Regions from separate parts of the Homo sapiens genome. Here region 1 is linked to region 2. The links come from fine-mapping of genetic effects on gene expression. A gene starts in region 2. The other region holds a variant in brackets. All regions are shown on one strand. Distances are from middle to middle. Region 1 overlaps SETX (senataxin). Region 2 holds the start of SETX (senataxin).

Region 1 (8,941 bases), 69 kb before region 2:
CCCTACACACACGGGTTTTCACTGGGTGACGGGTGTGCTTCTGGGCCACACTCTAACATGATCATGTACCTGCGCTCAAATGTCATACAAAGAACTGCACTATCATTCTGAATAATTCCGAAATCAAAAACCACTAACGATAACCACCTGCATTCATTCCAAGCTTCAACAAAAATGCTTTGAAAATGATCTGTTCTCTAGGATTATTTATGAAGCCACTGCTCAATTATCTGTATAAATAATCTATGTTATTAGTAAAAAATACACATTTCATTAAATTTCAAAACCTCTTCAGATTACTTCAAAACATCTACTGGATCCTGATTCTAATGTGCATTTCCAGGAGAATCTTTCATGAGATTAAAAAAAACCAACAGAGAAGAGTAGACTACAGTCTGGTTCTTCTCTTCCCAAAGTCAGAGCTTGTAATTGAGTCTTTTTTTCCCCTGTACCTTCACTTTCAGATGATGTGAAGGGCACAGACATGTTCTTGTATTAACACTAGAATACCAAATTCTAAAAATGGAAATGTACTCCAAAATTAATTTAACTTCATGTTTTCCTCAATTTGTACATATTTAAACAAAAATGAGGAGGGTAGGATTCTTCTCTTTATTTCTGAAGTTTTTCTTTTATTATTGTTTTGGTGTTTGTATGATTAAAATAAATCAGATTCAGCTCTTAAGAGACTTAAAAAAGGCAGACATGCACACTGCCTTTCCCAAAGCTTGGTTTCCATGGCACGTCATCCATCTAGGCTTCCAAGTCCCTGCCACACTGCTTCTGCCACACATACACAGAAGAACAACTATGACCAAATGGACATTTTTAGGCATTTTTTAAAATTTATTAAGTGCTTCTCTTTTCTTAGTTACTGCTTACTTTTCCCTCCAAATTAAGAGGCCAATCCAAGAAAGATGTCTCTCCCTCCTGAAAACAAAAATTTTAAAAAGCCCCTTCCATTTTAAAGCAATCTGAACATAAAAAACTTACCATAGAGATGACTGTCGGAGGGAGCTGCTTAGGATCTCCTACTAGGATGAGCTTATTGCAGCGATGGATGAGTGGAGTAAGAGTCTCAATTTCACAAGACTGTCCAGCCTTGGTAAGATACAGAAGAGAGAGGCAGTCTTAACAATCTTTGCTATTTATCCATATAGTTTATCTGATTAAAGTTCTAACCATTCAGAAAAGTATCACACTTCTCCTGCACCAAATATCAAAAATACAAATTTTCCCTGAAAACAAAAAAACAAAACAAAACCAACAAAATAAACCCTCCAGGCTGTGTGCAGTGGCTAACACACGTAATGCCAGCACTTTGGGAGGCCGAGGTGGGTGGATCACCTGAGGTCCGGAGTTCAAGACCAGCCTGGCCAACATGGCGCAACCAAAAAAATTAGCTGGGCGTGGTGGCAAGTGCCTGTAATCCCAGCTACTTGGGAGGCTGAGGCAGGAGAACTGCTTGAACCCAGGAGGCAGAGGTTGCAGTGAGCCGAGATCACATCACTGCACTCCGGTCTGGGTGAGTGCAGACTCCGTCTCTAAAAAAAAAAAAAAAAAAAGCAAGACTCCGTCTCAAAAAAAACAATAAATAAATAAAAAGTAAACTCTCCAAACATGTCTAAAAAAAAAATCAAACTTGTATTTTTGAAGTCAGCCACCAACGGGGCCACTACCACTTGGGAACCAGCCGTAAGTTCAGAAGGCCATGCACATCCTAGATGCGTGCTTTTTGTTCCTGCTGGGCATGAGCCTGAAAAATTTTTCTCCTTTAAAGTCCTTTTAAAACTTTATTTTAAATTTTTTATTTATTTTTTAACTTATTTTTTTTTTTTTTGAGAGAGAGAGTCTCACTCTGTCACCCAGGCTGGAGGGCAATGACATGATCGTTGTTCACCGCCTCCCGGGCTCAAGCAATCCTCCCACCTCAGCCTCCCGAATAACTGGAATGACAGGCACACACCATCAACTCCTGGCTCATTTTTGTCTTTTTAGTAGAGACAAGGTTTCACCATGTTGCCCAGGTTGGTCTCAAACTCCTGGGCTCAAGCGATCCACCCTCCTCAGTCTCCCAAAGTGCCAGGATTACAGGTGTGCACCACCATGCCCAGGCCCTTTTCAAAACTTTGTATTTGAGGTTCAGAAATCACATTAGGAGCGTCCATGAGTGTGTTTCCCCATATCTTTCTTCCTTGTTCCTCAGCATGCCTCTTTGATGACAAGACTCAAATTTCTCTTAAATTCAATGACATTTTCTTCAACTATTTAATCATTTCCACTTTTTGTCCTTTCCTTCTGGTGAAAACTGGATCTTGGGTCTCCTGATCACTCAATTCTCTGGTATCTCCTGCTCCATCTCTTTTGTCTTCTGACTCTACGTTCTGACAAACAGTACGTACCCAATAAATGTTTGCTCAAAGAGTGAACTAGGAATAAAAGACATCAGGTGAACATACTGTGGCTCAAAGCTATCCAAAATTATATTAAAACTACTTCAAAAGGTTACCAGAGATATTCTAAGCAGGAGTGAGACAGTCACTCAGCAGAGATTTTGTTAGAAACCATCAGTCATCCTCAAGACTAACCCCCAATACTGGAAAATCCACTTTCACTATGGAGGGTCATTAAGGAGTATATTTCTACATAAGGGAATACACAGGTAATAGCAAGTGAAAATCAGATGCAAAAAAAAAAAACACATTTCCTCAACATTTCAGCAGCCACAATTCATCTAAGACTTACTCCTCATAGTAGTAGTCAAAGTTGTATGGCTGACCGTTCACTGACCTCATCAACAATGACACAGCTGAAGGGGACACCCCCTTGCCCACGGAAAGCAGACTCAAGTAGTAAACCACCACTTGTGCTCAACGTGCAGCAGATGATATGGGACTCTAAGATGATGATACTCTGTGTTTTCTGTGGGCGTCCTTGAACCTAAGAGAACAAAGGTTAAATCAATATTCAGCTGTACATCAATCCTTGACTATGACAGGCCTATGTTTACTATAAAACACTCACTATTTATTAAAATAGATTTATGACAGAAAAATATTTAGTAAAAGTTAGGGGAAACCCTCAAATCTAGGAAACAGCAGAAACATTTAAGATAATCACAAAGCAGAAAGAATGTGTGCTTCGCGGCTGAAACACAGAATATGATTTAAGCACATTAAAAATTTTTATCCAGGGTTTGATTTGGTCAAAGTAGATTACAATCCTTCCTGTAGTCAGATATATGTAGGTAGGTATCTGAAGTAGAGATGTAATAATTCTGAGTTGTGAATTATATGAGTAAAACCAGGGGTGGAATTCAGCCTGAATGTACATTTTTCTGTTAGTTTTTAAGTATATAATATTGCCCTGTCTTTTTTTAGTGCTTTTGCTAGTACTAACAAAAATGCCTGTGAACCTGACAAATCCTCTATTTCCACAGTAAGGAACAGTCTGGTCTCCCTCTCTAACGCAGTGTGCTGTGATGGAGCCGGACGTGAGTGACGCCTCACAGTCACACCTACACTGCTCAGTCAATCAGCATTTCCAGCAGAGATTCAGTTTGCTGCTTTTTGCTACTAAGAAGTAGTGGTGATTCATCTCAGCACATACGATATATTCAACCATGGAATTCAAGGCATTCGTGTGAGCTTTAGGAAGAGGGTGGCACTGTGGTCCTCCACGGCTCACACAGTAAAGCACTGTCAGACACTGTCCTCAGCCACCTAGTGAGTACAACTGCTGAGCATAGTTTCATGGCCCACAGAACACATGTGATGAGCAGCAAAAAACATCTGTGAAGATGGACTTCATCCTTGACTCAGGAAAGATTAATCTGGGGTTCTGTTTAAAATCTGATTAAAATCTGTTTAATCAAAAGCTTTCACATAACTTTTAGTTTAAATAAACTGCTAATGAAAATATGCATTAAATTCAACTATATTTTAGTCACATAGAGAAAGATCATAATCCATTCAGGAGGAAACTTCAGCAAAAATACTACTAACGTCATCAGTTACTATTACCCTCTTTCCCTGACCCCAGTGTGGTTTGATTAGGGCTGCATTCTGACAATCAGGGTATACACCTGGCTCGGCCAAGCTTCAATGAGTCTAAATCTTACAGGATATTTTCACATCCAAAAAATACTGGAGAAAAGCTACAAAATGTTACAGGAGTCTTATGATCCAACACAAGTACAGGGAGTTTATGCTCTAACCCAAGAATTGCAAAAAACAAAAACCAAATATCAAAGTGCTGTACTTTCTTTTGCCGAATTCTGCCCACCATCACTCTACTTCTATCCAGGTTGGAGCTC[T/C]GGAGGGCTCACAGTTGCCACCCTCATCCTAAAGCTCATACAGGTGACTTTTTTTTTTTAATAGTGAAAACACCCACAAAGCTATTTTTTTTGTTGTTTTTTTTTTTTGAGACGGAGTCTCGCTCTGTCACCCAGGCTGGAGTGCAGTGGCGCGATCTCCACTCACTGCAAGCTCTGCCTCCCAGGTTCACGCCATTCTCCTGCCTCAGGCTCCCGAGTAGGTGGGATTACAGGTGCCCACCACCACGCCCAGCTAATTTTTTGTATTTTATTAGAGACGGGGTTTCACTGTGTTAGCCAGGATGGTCTCAATCTCCTGACCTCGTGATCCGCCCGCCTCGGCCTCCCAAAGTGCTGGGAGTACAGGCGTGAGCCACCGCGCCTGGCCAAAGCTATTTTCATTAACTGTTTATCTGATGATAATTATCATAATTGTTTTTTGCAGTTTATGGGAAGCAGAAATAGAGCACCTTATAAGAAAGAATTTAAATATTTACCAGACTTAAAACAAAAAAGATAACTTATAACCACCTCTTAGAAATCTTAGATGGTGGTAAGAATTCATTCTTAGGTTAAAGAAAAAAATGCAAATGTTGTTACACCATTTTCTCCACTTCCACAGATGTTTGTAATTTTTCATAACAATTTAAAATGTAACTGAGAAAAGCCCATAGCTGGCCAGGCATGGTGGCTCACGCCTGTAATGCCAACACTTTGGGAGGCCGAGACGGGGGATGACTTGAGGTTGGACGTTCCAGACCAGCATGGCCAACATGGTGAAACCCCATCTCTATTAAAAATACAAAAAAAGGGCCAGGCATGGTGGCTCACGCCTGTAATCCCAGCACTTAGGGAGGCCGAGGTGGGCGGATCACAACGTCATGAGATGGAGACCATCCTGGCCAACATGGTGAAACCCCATCTCTACTAAAAATACAAAATTTAGTCGGGCGTGGTGGCGCACACCTGTAGTCCCAGCTACTCGGGAGGCTGAGGCAGGAGAATCACTTGAACCTGGGAGGCAGAGGTTGCAGTGAGCTGAGATTGTGCCACTGCACTCCAGCCTGGCAACAGAGTGAGACTCTGTCTCAAAAAAAAAAAAACACAAAAGAGGCCAGGTGTGGTGCCTCACGCCTGTAATCCCAGCACTTTGAGGGAGGCTGAGGCAGGAGGATCATGACGTCAAGAGATCCAGACCATCCTGGCCAACACGGTGAAACCCCGTCTCTACTAACAATGCAAAAATTAGCTGGGCGTGGTGGCACACGCCTGTAATCCTAGCTACTCGGGAGGCTGAGGCAGGAGAATCGCTTGAACCCGGGAGGCAGAGGTTGCAGTGAGCCAAGATCACGCCACTATACTCCAGTCTGGTGACAGAGCAAGACTTCACCTCAAAAAAAAAAAAAAAAAAAAATTAGCCAGGCATGGTGGTGCACGCCTGTAATCCCAGCCACATGGGAGACTGAGGTTGCAGTGAGCTGAGATCATGCCACTGCACCCCAGCCTGAGAGACAGAGTGAGACTCTGTCTCCAAAATAAATAAATAAAAGCCCATAGCTTGTCTGAACAGTCATACTTAAATTTTAAAAAGAAAAAAAAAAAAATCAAGAAAATGCTACAGGTGAACTACTTACCTCTTTAATTTTAGAAGCAAGTTCCTGCCTTTCCTTAGAAACTTTGGAAATGTTTTCATCTAATTCTTGCCTCTGGAAAAAAATTCAAATGTCACAATTAAAACTAAACTAAGCATTTTTAAATGCCTTCCAATGGACTACCTCTAATTTTAAAAGAGCCTGTATTTCACCAATGAAAAATGTATTTACCCAGCTTATTTCCTCTTTACCACTGGAGTCCTGACACACTCTGTATGCTGCTGCGTAAGACTCAGCTGTGTTCTGTGCGCTGCACGTGAGCTGTCTGCTTAGCATTCCAGCACTGGGAGCATCACGCCACCCTTAACTTCCAGGTGATTCAAATGAGGCTGTAAATCACACCCCAACCATTCCTCTGGCCACAGTGATGGGCATCTAACACAGGCCTGGCCAATCATGCACCCATCTTCTTAAAAATAGGGATTAGACCTGCTTGCTCACCCAGGGACTAAACTAACTGCTTCTTTGGATATATGGATGCTAAGAGAAAGACTTTCTCTCCCTCTGGGGTTTCAAAGCTGAGATGGTGGAAGCCCTGAGATGCTGACACTCACCTTTCTCAGAAGAAATGGCTGACACACAGAAAAACAAATTATGGAGTGGAGAAATGATATCATGTGACCCTCTGGATCCACCCATACTGAAGCTAATTCCCTTTCTGTCTAACCTAATTTGAACTGGGCTCAACATGCAACTGAAAGGCAACTAATAAACTCAGTATAGCTTTAATATAAGGCAGTACAGCCTATAAGCCAAATGCAAGGCCATGTGCAGGGACTCATGCCTGTAATCCTGGCACTTTGGGAGGCTAAGGTGAGAGGACTGCTTGAGGCAAGAAGTTCAGACCACCCTGGGCAACATGGCAAGACCCAGTTTCTACAGAAAACAAACAAAAAAATTAGCCAGGCATGATGGCACACGGCTGTAGTCCCAGCTACTCAAGAGGCTGAGGCAGAAAGACAGCTCACTTGAGTCCAAGAGCTTGAGGCTAAATTGAACCACAACTGCACCACTGCACTCCAGCCTGGGCCACAAAGTGAGACCCTATCTCAAAAACAAACAAAAACGCAACACCCCATCTATTTTCGTAAATAAAGTTCTACTGGAACACAGCCACATCCATTTGTTTATGTATTATCTATGGCTGCCTTTGTGCTACCAAAAGCAGAGTTGAATAGCTGCAACAGAAACCAACCATATGGCTTGCAAAGCCTAAAATCTTTACTAGAATATCTTGCCCTTTACAAAAAAGTTTTTAAAAAGATTTTTAACAAAAGTAATTTTAATAAAAGAAAAAATGAAAAAAAAAATTAAAACCAAAAGGACAAAAAAAAAAAAAGCAGAAAGAAATGTGTTAATCTGAGACACATTTTTAGTGTCTTAGTACACATTTTTATACATGAATCATGCCATTCCCCAATAAATAAAGGGCATTAAATACTCATTAATTAGGCTGGTCGCAATGGCTCATGCCTGTAATCCCAGCACTTTGGGATGCTGAGGTGGGCAGATCAACTTGAGGCCGGGAGTTCGAGACTAGCCTGGCCAACATGGTGAAACCCCATCTCCATTAAAAATACAGAAAATTAGCCAGGTGTGCCGGCACAACCTTGTAATCCCACCTACTCGGGAGGCTGAGGCAGGAGGATCACCTGAACCCAGGAAGGTGAGGCTGCAGTGAGTCAGGATTGTGCTACTGCACTCCAGCCTGGAAGACAGAGCAAGACTCTGTCTCAAAAAAAACTTGTTAACTAGTTCGTATACCTGAGTTATTATTCAAGAAATGCAAAGATACCTGTATTTCCCGTCCACCTCGGCATAGAGCTCGCTGCCGGGAAAGCTCATCCAGCTGATAATCTAGAAATTCCTTTCTTTTATGCATCGCCTGAACATGAGAAGGTAACTCTTTTTCTAATAAAAATAACAAATAAAAAATTATATGCTATTCTAATTCTAACAAACTCACACACATATACAACACAATGAGAAGGAAAATTAGTTCCCAAAGCCAGACTAATTCTGGAGGCTTCAAATTACCTTTAGTGCCCAAGTCATTTTCCACCAAACAAAACAGAGAAAACACTAGTATATACCACATTCAGTACTTACTCATTCTGTGGTTTACTTGGCTGTCCAAACTGAACTTTAGAACCTCACTATTAATAGACTTTTCTGGACCCAGTCGTACTAAATTTATATCTCCACAGTTTCCTGTTGATAAGAATCACAGTTAAGGACTAATAAGGACACTGCTGATCAATCCTGTCTCTATACATAGTATCTATATTTCTAAGTAAATATGTTAATAATCAGAGAAGGGAGCAAACATGAACTTCCAATTAACCAGACACCAGGGACTACACCACAAACTTCTTATACATTATTTCAGATATTGTTCCTAACAATCCTATAAGGCAAGTAGTTATCATTTCTACCTAATAAAGGTTAGCAAGGCCATCTAAACAGTACACTACAGAGTTGAGATTCTATTACAGTAACATTTTCAAACTATGTTCAGTAGGACATTCCATAGCAAAATAGTTTCAAGAAAAATGATGAGATAAAATAAACGAAGCAGTTCTCTCATGTTGGGGAAAGGGCTTGTGGGGTGCCTGCATAAACCAGCCATAAAAATATGGAACAGTAAGTTGTAGAAAGCCACAAGAGGCCTCTGAGGAGTAAAGCCTTCTAATTGCCATCATGTTCCCATGACCAGAATGTGACCTGCTCTCCTATCTATAAACACTGTGCTCAAGGAGAAAGATACTCCTTTGAAGCACTGGAATGTGGCCAGATATGCCAGCTCCTAGTTAGGCCCACTCCCCACAGCTGCTCTCTGATAAGTTAAAAAATAAATCAGTAGTTAAGTTTATACTGCTTCAGCACAAAGAAAATTTACCTAAACCGCCATTCCTATACATTAGGTGTATGACACACGGCTCTCCTTTCACCATTTCACTATTTATTTCAATAA
Region 2 (8,941 bases):
AAACCCAAATCTTCTGCTGGCTGGCTTATCAATCACTGATTCACTAAACTAAAAAAATCCTTCTATTTTTGACATACGAAAAATACAGAAAAATAAAAGCATTGTATAAGGAATAAGTATCATAAGGCAACATAAAGTTGTGCTACAGAGAAGGCTCAAAACAACACAGTACCGATAGAAAATATATAGAGACCCAGACTTACCAATATTTTCAAAGTACAGATTTTGGAATGGGGAAAAAAGTTACCAACTACAAACTTAAGTTCATTTCATAAACTGAATGGACCTAGCTCAGCATTCTCATCAGGAGTGATGTCACCCTCAAAGAGATCTAAAACTAGTTAGTGGGACGTGAAAAAGCCCTCCTCTTTTTAGATATAAAGCTCAGATAAACATACAGTACATAAAGAGAGACACAATATATTGGTGGTAATAAAATTCACAGGAGAGGCAGTTTTTAAAAATGTTTAAAAACTCTCCACTCAGGGAGAAAGGTTAGAAGGAGGTTAAAAAACCTAAGTAAGCTGGGAACGGTGGCTCATGCCTGTAAGCCCAGCACTTTGGGAGGCCGACGTGGGCAGACTGCTTGAGGTCCGCAGTTCGAGACCAGCCTGGCCAACATGGTGAAACCCCATCTCTACTAAAAAGAATACAAAAATTAGCTGGTGGTGCGCATCTGCAATCCTAGCTGCTTGGGAGGCTGAGGCAGGAGTACTGCCTGAACGTGGGAGGCAGAGGTTGCAGTGAGCCAAGATTGCGCCACTGCACTCCAGCCTGGGTGACAGAGTGAAACTCTGTCTCAAAACAAACAAACAAAAGAAACCTAAGTGAAGACACTGAGTATGTGGGAATGGAAACATGGCAGTGTGAGATTTTTGAGTATCACCGTCACCCTAAAATTCAGAATACATAATCTTTACCAACAGGAAATATAAAACATCTCAACAGAAACTAGGCTTGGCTGCTGAGGCTTCTGTGGCATAAAGCTAGTTCCTAAAATAAAGTGATTTTTTAAAATTCTTTAATTTCTTCTTATACCCACAATTAAATAATTATTTAGAAATGCATAAGCATAATCAAATACATTGTCATATGAATTGATTTTTTAAAATTTATTAAATATTACTTTTACTTATGCTTTTGAAGAGGTATACTTTCTTCATGGTTCTAAAAAGAATTTAGGGTAGCTTTCAACATTAAAGTACATACACACAAAAGGACATTTAAAAATGAGATTTCAAAAAACAAAATCAAAACTTCTTTAGAAGAAATTTAATTTCACTAAGTTCTACATGAGGAGCTTCCTGAAAGCAGAGAAAAAGGATAACATGAGTTACACAGTTCTCATCGACGTGGGGGGGAAAAAGAGTATGCAGTGATAGCCGCAGAGTACCGCCCTTTCCTGACACAAACTCTAACTCAATTACATTTTATTAATGCCTTCTAGTACAAGGGCACTGCAGACTAGGAAATGCCAAGTAACATGGGATAAGGTCTTCAATGTATTTCTGCAGAATTTAAAATTATTTTATTCAAAAGAAGAATTACTTATACCTAAGAGGCCAACATCACACTACTAGTAAGTTAACAGCTTGCAGAAGCTGTTTTTTTTTCCGGTAACCTAGTTTAATATGGAAAGTGAACTTAGAAGACGTAAGAACAGAAAGTGAAACTTCATGGAGGTTTCTCAAACATTTGAAGCATGATTTCAGCAGCTAACAGACTGCAGCCAATTTAAGCTTTAAAAAACTTAAGTGAGACTACCATGCAAATAAAATGTTGCATACTTCTTTTCCCACTTACCTTACTTGAAGCTCCAAATGTTGTGTACTTTAAAATAAGTACTAACAAAGGAGACAACAAAAGAAACCTTCTATTAAGAAAATTACAGAATTTGCTTTTTATTTCACTTAGAAAACTAGCCTATTTCCACAACCAAAAAAGCAAGACTAAATTTTCTCAAAATATATAGGAGTTACTACCAAAATAGGTGAGTGTCATGGCCGCTAGAAGATAACGGAGAATACTGCTGCAGAGCACACCAACAAGAGAACATGTGCTTCCATGGTTCTTCTTCAAAAGGCTGTGTGTGTGGTTTTGTCTTCAAATTTAAAATCATCACTGGCCTAATGGCTAAGCCCAGGAAACCTCAATAGGGCATATTTTGTCTTTAAGGAGAAAATTATTGCTTCTAAACTACTGTGAATCCTCTTAAGCTTTTATACAACTCAGTTCTTCTTGAGGTCTATTTTGTTAGTTTCATCAGACTGTAACGGCTTGCAATCATTAGTGAATGACAAATGGGTGTGTCCAGACAATACTCAAGTTGCAAAACCAAAATTAAAGCAACTCTCTGAGCACCCACCAAAAAGAGAGCTAATGTGTCAAAACCAAAAATATAGGATGCTTCACCATAGGTATTACTGTAATTTTCTACAGACTTATCCTTAGGCTATCCATTTCTCAACATTAACTAGCCAGAAACTTCAAATAACAATCTCTTTCTTCTACACTTCTCAGCTAAACATCTGGAAGTTTAGATTCACTACCTCCCAGCTCTTCAGCTCCTTTGCACTCTGGCTTCTACCCTTACACTCCACTGAATGTGAAGTCCCTAACAATCTTTACATTACCAATCCAATAGGTTCCTGACCTGACTCTGCTAAAGCATATGAAAATGCTGCCCATCCTTTCCTTACCTACAACACACCATTTTTTGGACACCACTTCTACCCAATCACCTTCATAATTACCCCTGCCTTTGTTACTCATATAAATGCTAAAGTTTTCGAAGGCTTGTCCTGAGAATTCTCACCTCTTCATTCAGTACTCTTTCTGGGCGGCCTACTTCAAACCACTGCTTCAACTACTGCCTAGATTGAAGCTGCCCAGACTGAGAATGTATTGTAAAACTTAATGCAGGCAGGGCGCAGTGGCTCACACCTGTAATTCCAGCACTCTGGGAGGCCGAGGCGTGAGGGATCACGAGGTCAAGAGATCAAGACCATCCTGGCCAACATGGTGAAACCCCGTATCTACTAAAAATATAAAAATTAGCTGGGCATGGTGGTATGCACCTGTAGTCGCAGCTACTGGGGAGGTTGAGTGAAATGATGCACTGTTCCACCTACTCAATAACTGACAGCCTAGCCTAGAACTCCAGATATATTCAATATCCAACTGCATACAGTGTATCTCTACTCACATATCTGACAGGCACCTCAAAGTAAACATGACCAGAACCCAACGAAGTCCTTCCCTTAAATCTGTTATTTGTTCTATATTCCCTTGTTGATGACATTACCATACATTCAATTTTCAAACCAGTAACCTAGGAATTATCCTATACGCTCCTTCTCCCTCAGCCGCAATCTCTGAGCTCCAGAGCCTACCCCTTAATTACATCTCTACTTTCTTCTCAGTGCAACCGCCACTGCCTTAGTTCAGTACATTTTCATCATTTGCCTGGATTACTGAAGAAGCCTAAATGATCTATTTCTTCTTTGATCGCCATCAATTCCTCCTCCAAAATGCTGCCAGAGGCCAAAGCCCCAAACTGGACTTCGAAAGCACAAATGACTCCTCCTCCAATGTTGGGATAAAATTCAAATTGCTGAGCTCAACACACACAAGGCCCGCGATGATCCAGCTTCCACATCATCTCTTTCCTCCACACTTACCTCCCTTGACTTGCTCTTCCTAAAACCATTCATGGTGACTGGTATTCCCTGCCTTTATGGAAGCTCTTCCACTGGCCTTGGAAACCCACCCTCCTACCTCTGCCCGGTACTTAACTGTGAATACACATCAGACTTACCTCAGGAACTTAAAAAAAAAAGTAGAAAAGATCCTATGGATAAAATTGTTTCCCTTTTAAAGAACTCCACTAAGATTCGAAGAGAAAGCTGGATTTGAGAACAACCAGTGTGCAAGCTCTTCCTGAGTGTCATCACGTCTGGGGGGGGGGCCTGTCCGACCCGTCCTCTCTTCCAGTCTATCTCTGATGACCTTCTTCTCTGTCCCTTTAGGACTCTGCACATGTTTCCATCATTGCACTTACCTTGGTGCTCTGAACTCCTGCTAAAAAAAAAAATTATTACCTGGACAAATGGCCTACAGAAAAGTGATCGTCTCAGCTGGGCTTAGTTGTGAACAAACACGGATTTGCATTCATATATGCCCAGACTCTGGCCCCAAAAGAACATTTCTGAAATTAAAAAACAAAAAACGAAATTGGTAAGTGGCATTTATACTCTATATCCCATCTGAGCCTGGTATCGATCCTATTACAGACAGATACTGCTGGCTGATGAGGAAGCCCAGATAGGTTAGACAACTTGGCTGTGGACTTCCAGGAAACAGCAGAACTGCAATTCTGACTCCCAGTTCCACAAGGGGCTGTCCCCACTCACGGGGACAGCTAGGCACCGAGCCAAAAATCCCCCAAGTTATTAGCCCGCGCAGGTAACATCAATCCTAGGATCCTCAGCTGTGTCACTTATCAAATACCACACTCGGCCTTCTCCTTGTGGAGCTCTTTTCCCTCAAGGCAGTCACCCCCGTTTCACTTGGGTCGTGCAAATTGCTGGGCACATCCTTAGATCCCCAGAAGTTGGGGAGGACGGACAAAGTCCTGTGGCCAGCAGCAAAAGCTCCAGCCCCTCCAAGTGGGAGAAACAGACTCTCCTCCAAACGAAGGGACCGGCCGGGCGCGGCGGCTCGGAGGATCCCTGGAGCAGCTGAGCTCAGCCTGGGAAACACAGCCAGGCCCTGTCTCTGCAACACATTTTGTTTTTAATTAGCCGGGCGTGGTGACGCGCGCCTATGGTCCCAGTTACTCGGGGGGATGAGGCGGAAGGATCGCTGGAGCCCAGGAAGACGAGGTTGCTGCGAGCCGTGACTGTTCCACTGCACTTCAGCCTGGGTGACAGAGCGAGACCCCGTCTCAAAAAAAAAAAAAAAAGAAAAAAGAAAAAAAAACAAAGGGAGGGACTCCAGGCGAGAGGCAGACGAGCGTGTGGAGGGAACCGACACTTTCCACCCCGAGACCTCCCGCTCAGCCCCAAGGAAACTACGCAGTATCCACACCAAAAACAGCTCACACGAGACCGCAGTGTAGACAACGGAAGGACAGGGGGTCGCAGCGGCCGGGTCCAGCGCGCAGGAAGGCAACAGGCGGCCGCCAGCCGTCGAGGGGTGCTCCCGCCCCCGCACCGAGGGAAGCGGCCGAGCCCGCGCCGACTCTTCCCCCATCCGCCCACCGGGACCTAGGCGCCGCGATGGTTCCCCGAAGCGGCCCTGCAAGCACAAGCCGCGCCTGCGCTCACGCCCGCCCGACCTACGGCCTCCAGCCCGCCGCTACCCTCACCGCTCTCTGGCTGGCGTCGGCCTCTAGCCCACCTCCATACCGGGCCCCGCTCTAGGCCACCAGCGGAAGTGCGGGCCCGCAGCCGCAGCTACCAACCAGCTGTTGCCGCGAGGTAGGCCCCGCCCCCGCGCTGAGTCGGCCGGCCGCAGGCCCCGCCCCGGCCGCTGCTTTCTGGTTTTGGTGCCCCCCAGGGGGCGGGGCATGGGAAGAGCGGCCGCGGTGCACCGCCCACGCCGGGCGCTGGCGTCACGTCCGGGCAGCTGGGGCCCGACCAATCCCGAGTCCCCGTCAGGGTGGACGGGGAGAGTTTGCCGCGGAACCTTGACCTCGGCCCCGCCCGGGGCTTCCTGCGGGTGGGGCGGCTCCGGGATGAGCTCTGCTGCGGGTGGGGTCAGCCCTTACCCGCTGGCCATTTCCGTTCCCTCTTTTTTCTTCTTTTTTCCACGCCTCAGGTGTCTCAGCGGATGTACTACGGTGACGAAGTAATTTTTCTCTTTAGATTTCCTTTAAAGACCTGAAATGTAAATTACATAAACGTGTAATTTCGGAGGAATATGTGTATATCCTTTATATTACAAGAAAGGGAGACCTTAGGTCTTGCGAACAATGCGCGCGATGCGCAACACAGCAGAGTAAATCCCTCGCTGGTGCGGTGGCTCCCGCTTCTAATCCCACCACTTTGGGAGGCCCAGGCGGGAGGCTCGCTTGAGCCCGGAGTTCAGAGACCAGCCTGTGCAACATAGCGAGACACCCGTATGTACAAAAAAAAATTAAAACTCAGCCACCGAGGCCGGGCGCGGTGGCTCACGCCTGTAATCCCAGCACTTTGGGAGGCCGAGGCGGGTGGATCACCTGAGGTCAGGAGTTCGAGACCAGCCTGACCAACATGGTGAAACTCCGTCTCTACTAAAAATAAAAAGATTACCTGGGCGTGGTGGCGGGTGCCTGTAATCCCAGCTACTCAGGAGGCTGAGGCATGAGAATGGCTTGAACCCGGGAGGCAGAGGTTGCAGTGAGCCGAGATCGCACCACTGCACTCCAGCCTGGGCAAAGGAGCGAGACTCTCTCTCCGGAAAAAAAAAAAAAAAAAAAAAAATTAGCACCTGTGGGCCCAGCTTGTTGGGAGGCTGAGGCAGGGGGTGGATATCCATTGAGACCGGGAGATCGAGACTGCAGTGAGCCGTGACTGTGCCACTACACTCCAGGCTGGGGAACAAAGCAAGACCCTGTCTCAGAAAAGTCTATAAATAAATAAAAATGAGTAAAATCCACTGGAAAGCCTATCCCCCCCCTTTTTTGTTTTTGAGATGGAGTCGCGCTCTGTCACCCAAGCTGAAGTGCAGTGGCGCAGTCTCGGCTCACTGCAACCTCCGCCTCCTGGGTTCAAATGATTCTCCTGCATCAGCCTCCCGAGTAGCTGGGAGTACAGGCGTGTGCCACACGCCCGGCTAATGTTCATGTTTTTAGTAGAGATGGGGTTTCACCATGTTGGCCAGGATGGTCTCAAACTCCAACCTCAAGTGATCCGCCCCGCCTCGACCTCCCAAAGTGCTGGGATTACAAGCGTGATCCACCGCACCCGGCCCCTACCCCCTTTTAGTAACGCCTACTACTGACCACGATGATGCAGCGTCACCGTCTTACAGTTAATAGAGGAGACAGGGAAATTAAACAATTAGTAGTGGTGACTCAGGCGATAAAAAAAGAGGCTGAGATGGGCCAGCTTGGGAAAAGTGGGTCAGATACAGCCTTACCGAGGAGAACCCTGGCCCGAGGATGAGGAGCAAGCCCAGGGGAACACTGCGGGAAAGGCCCAAGGCGAAGGAAGATTCTAGCAAGGGGGCGTGGCTTGTTGGAAGGGCGTGGTGGCCGTTATGCAAATTTAACCGTCTAAGGAGCAGCACGCGTTGACCGTTATTTTCCTCTTTTCTACTTCTTCATCCTGTCAAATATTTTGAACATATTTTGTTTTATCATATAACACTAATATACCAACACAGCCTTTATACCACCACAGTCATAAAATATAATTTTTTTTTTTTTTTGAGACGAGTCTCGCTCTGTCGCCCAGGCTGGAGTGCAGGGGCGCCATCTCGGCTCACTGCAAGCTCCGCCTCCCGGGTTCACGCCATTCTCCTGTCTCAGCCTCCCGAGTAGCTGGGACTACAGCCACGTGCCACCACGCCTGGCTAATTTTTTGTATTTTTAGTAGAGACAGGGTTTCACCGTGTTAGCCAGGATGGTCTCGATCTCCTGACCTCGTGATCCGCCCGCCTCTGCCTCCCAAAGTGCTGGGATTACAGGCTTGAGCCACCGCACCCGGCCATAAAATATAATTTTTATCATTTTTTTTAATGGAGAAAAGTGCCATGAAGGTAACTTGTGCCCAGAGCCCACAAAAGTCATAATTTCCTCCTGTCCCTGAAGCCCTCTGTAGGCCTTATCATCTTCCCACATTTTTTGTCTGTGAACAACATATAAATTTTACATGCTTTTTAACTCTGTATATGGAATTATGGAGGATGTATTTTTCTGCAAATTGCTTTTTACACTCAATGTTATGTCCTGAGACTCATTGATTCAAGGTGCATTCAGGAATTGTTGAGCCCAAAACTTACACAACCTATAGAATGTTAAACAGAAGCACTGCAATAGACTTTGTAAATATAAAATTAGAAATGAAAATTAATACTTATTTGGAATGAATAAATAAGTACAAATTACAAACTTCTAAAGCTGATAAAACCATAAACATGGCCAGGCGCAATGGCTCAGGCCTGTAATCCCAGCACTTTGGGAAGCTGAGGTGGGCAGATCACCTGAGGTCAGGAGTTCAAGACCAGCCTAGCCAACATGGTGAAACCCGGTCTCTACTAAAAATACAAAAATTAGCCAGGCTTAGTGGTGCATGCCCGTAGTTCCAGCTACTTGGGAGGCTGAGACAGGAGAATGGCTTGAACCCGAGAGGCGAGGCGACAGAGTGAGACCTCATCTCCAAAAATAAATAAATAAATAAATAAATAAATAAATAAATAAATAAATAAATAAATAAAAAGACTGGGAAGTATGAGGCCTCCAGTATCGTTCTTTTTCAAAATTGTTTTAGCTACTTAAGGTCCCTTGCTATTCCATGTGAATATTTAGAATTGGCTTGTCCCGTTTCTGCAAATAAATAAGTACAAGCAGTTGGAATTTTTATAGGGATTGAATTGTATTTTTAGATACATCTGGGGAATCAATTGACACCTTAACAATATTAAGTATAGCAGGTTCTCTAATAAGATCATTTTGTTCAATGTGGTTTTGTTATAACATTGATGAGAAAAAAAAAATCCATTCCTGCTCAAGGCTTTTTTTTGAGACGGAATCTCCCTCTGTAGCCCAGGCTCTGGAGTGCAGTGATGCGATCTTGGCTCACTGCAAGCTCCGCCTCCCAGGTTTCGGTTCAAGCAATTCTCCTGCCTCAGCCTCCTGAGTAGCTGGGATTATAGGCACGCACCACCACGCCCAGCTAATTTTTGTATTTTTAGTAGACACGGAGTTTCAGCATGTTGCCCAGGCTGGTCTTGAACT

What was found. PIP is the estimated chance that this variant, and not a neighbour inherited with it, causes the effect.
Region 1: its variant is fine-mapped to the expression of SETX in whole blood (TOPMed, PIP 0.99).

The regions. Positions count from the first base shown.
Region 1 is chr9:132,280,474-132,289,414 of GRCh38, forward strand. SETX (senataxin) reads right to left here. Exons shown (of 26, transcript NM_015046.7): 16 at 8,077-8,178; 17 at 7,763-7,878; 18 at 5,950-6,021; 19 at 2,791-2,940; 20 at 994-1,101. Among named protein-coding and RNA genes, the nearest start is that of SETX, 70 kb to the right of the region's middle. The variant T/C (reference allele first, on the strand shown) is at 4,316.
Region 2 is chr9:132,349,549-132,358,489 of GRCh38, forward strand. It overlaps SETX (senataxin), which reads right to left and starts at 5,438. Exons shown (of 26, transcript NM_015046.7): 1 at 5,369-5,438; 2 at 4,101-4,207. RefSeq lists enhancers at 1,645-1,694, 4,702-5,203, 5,023-6,222, 5,204-5,703 and silencers at 5,088-5,297, 5,348-5,737.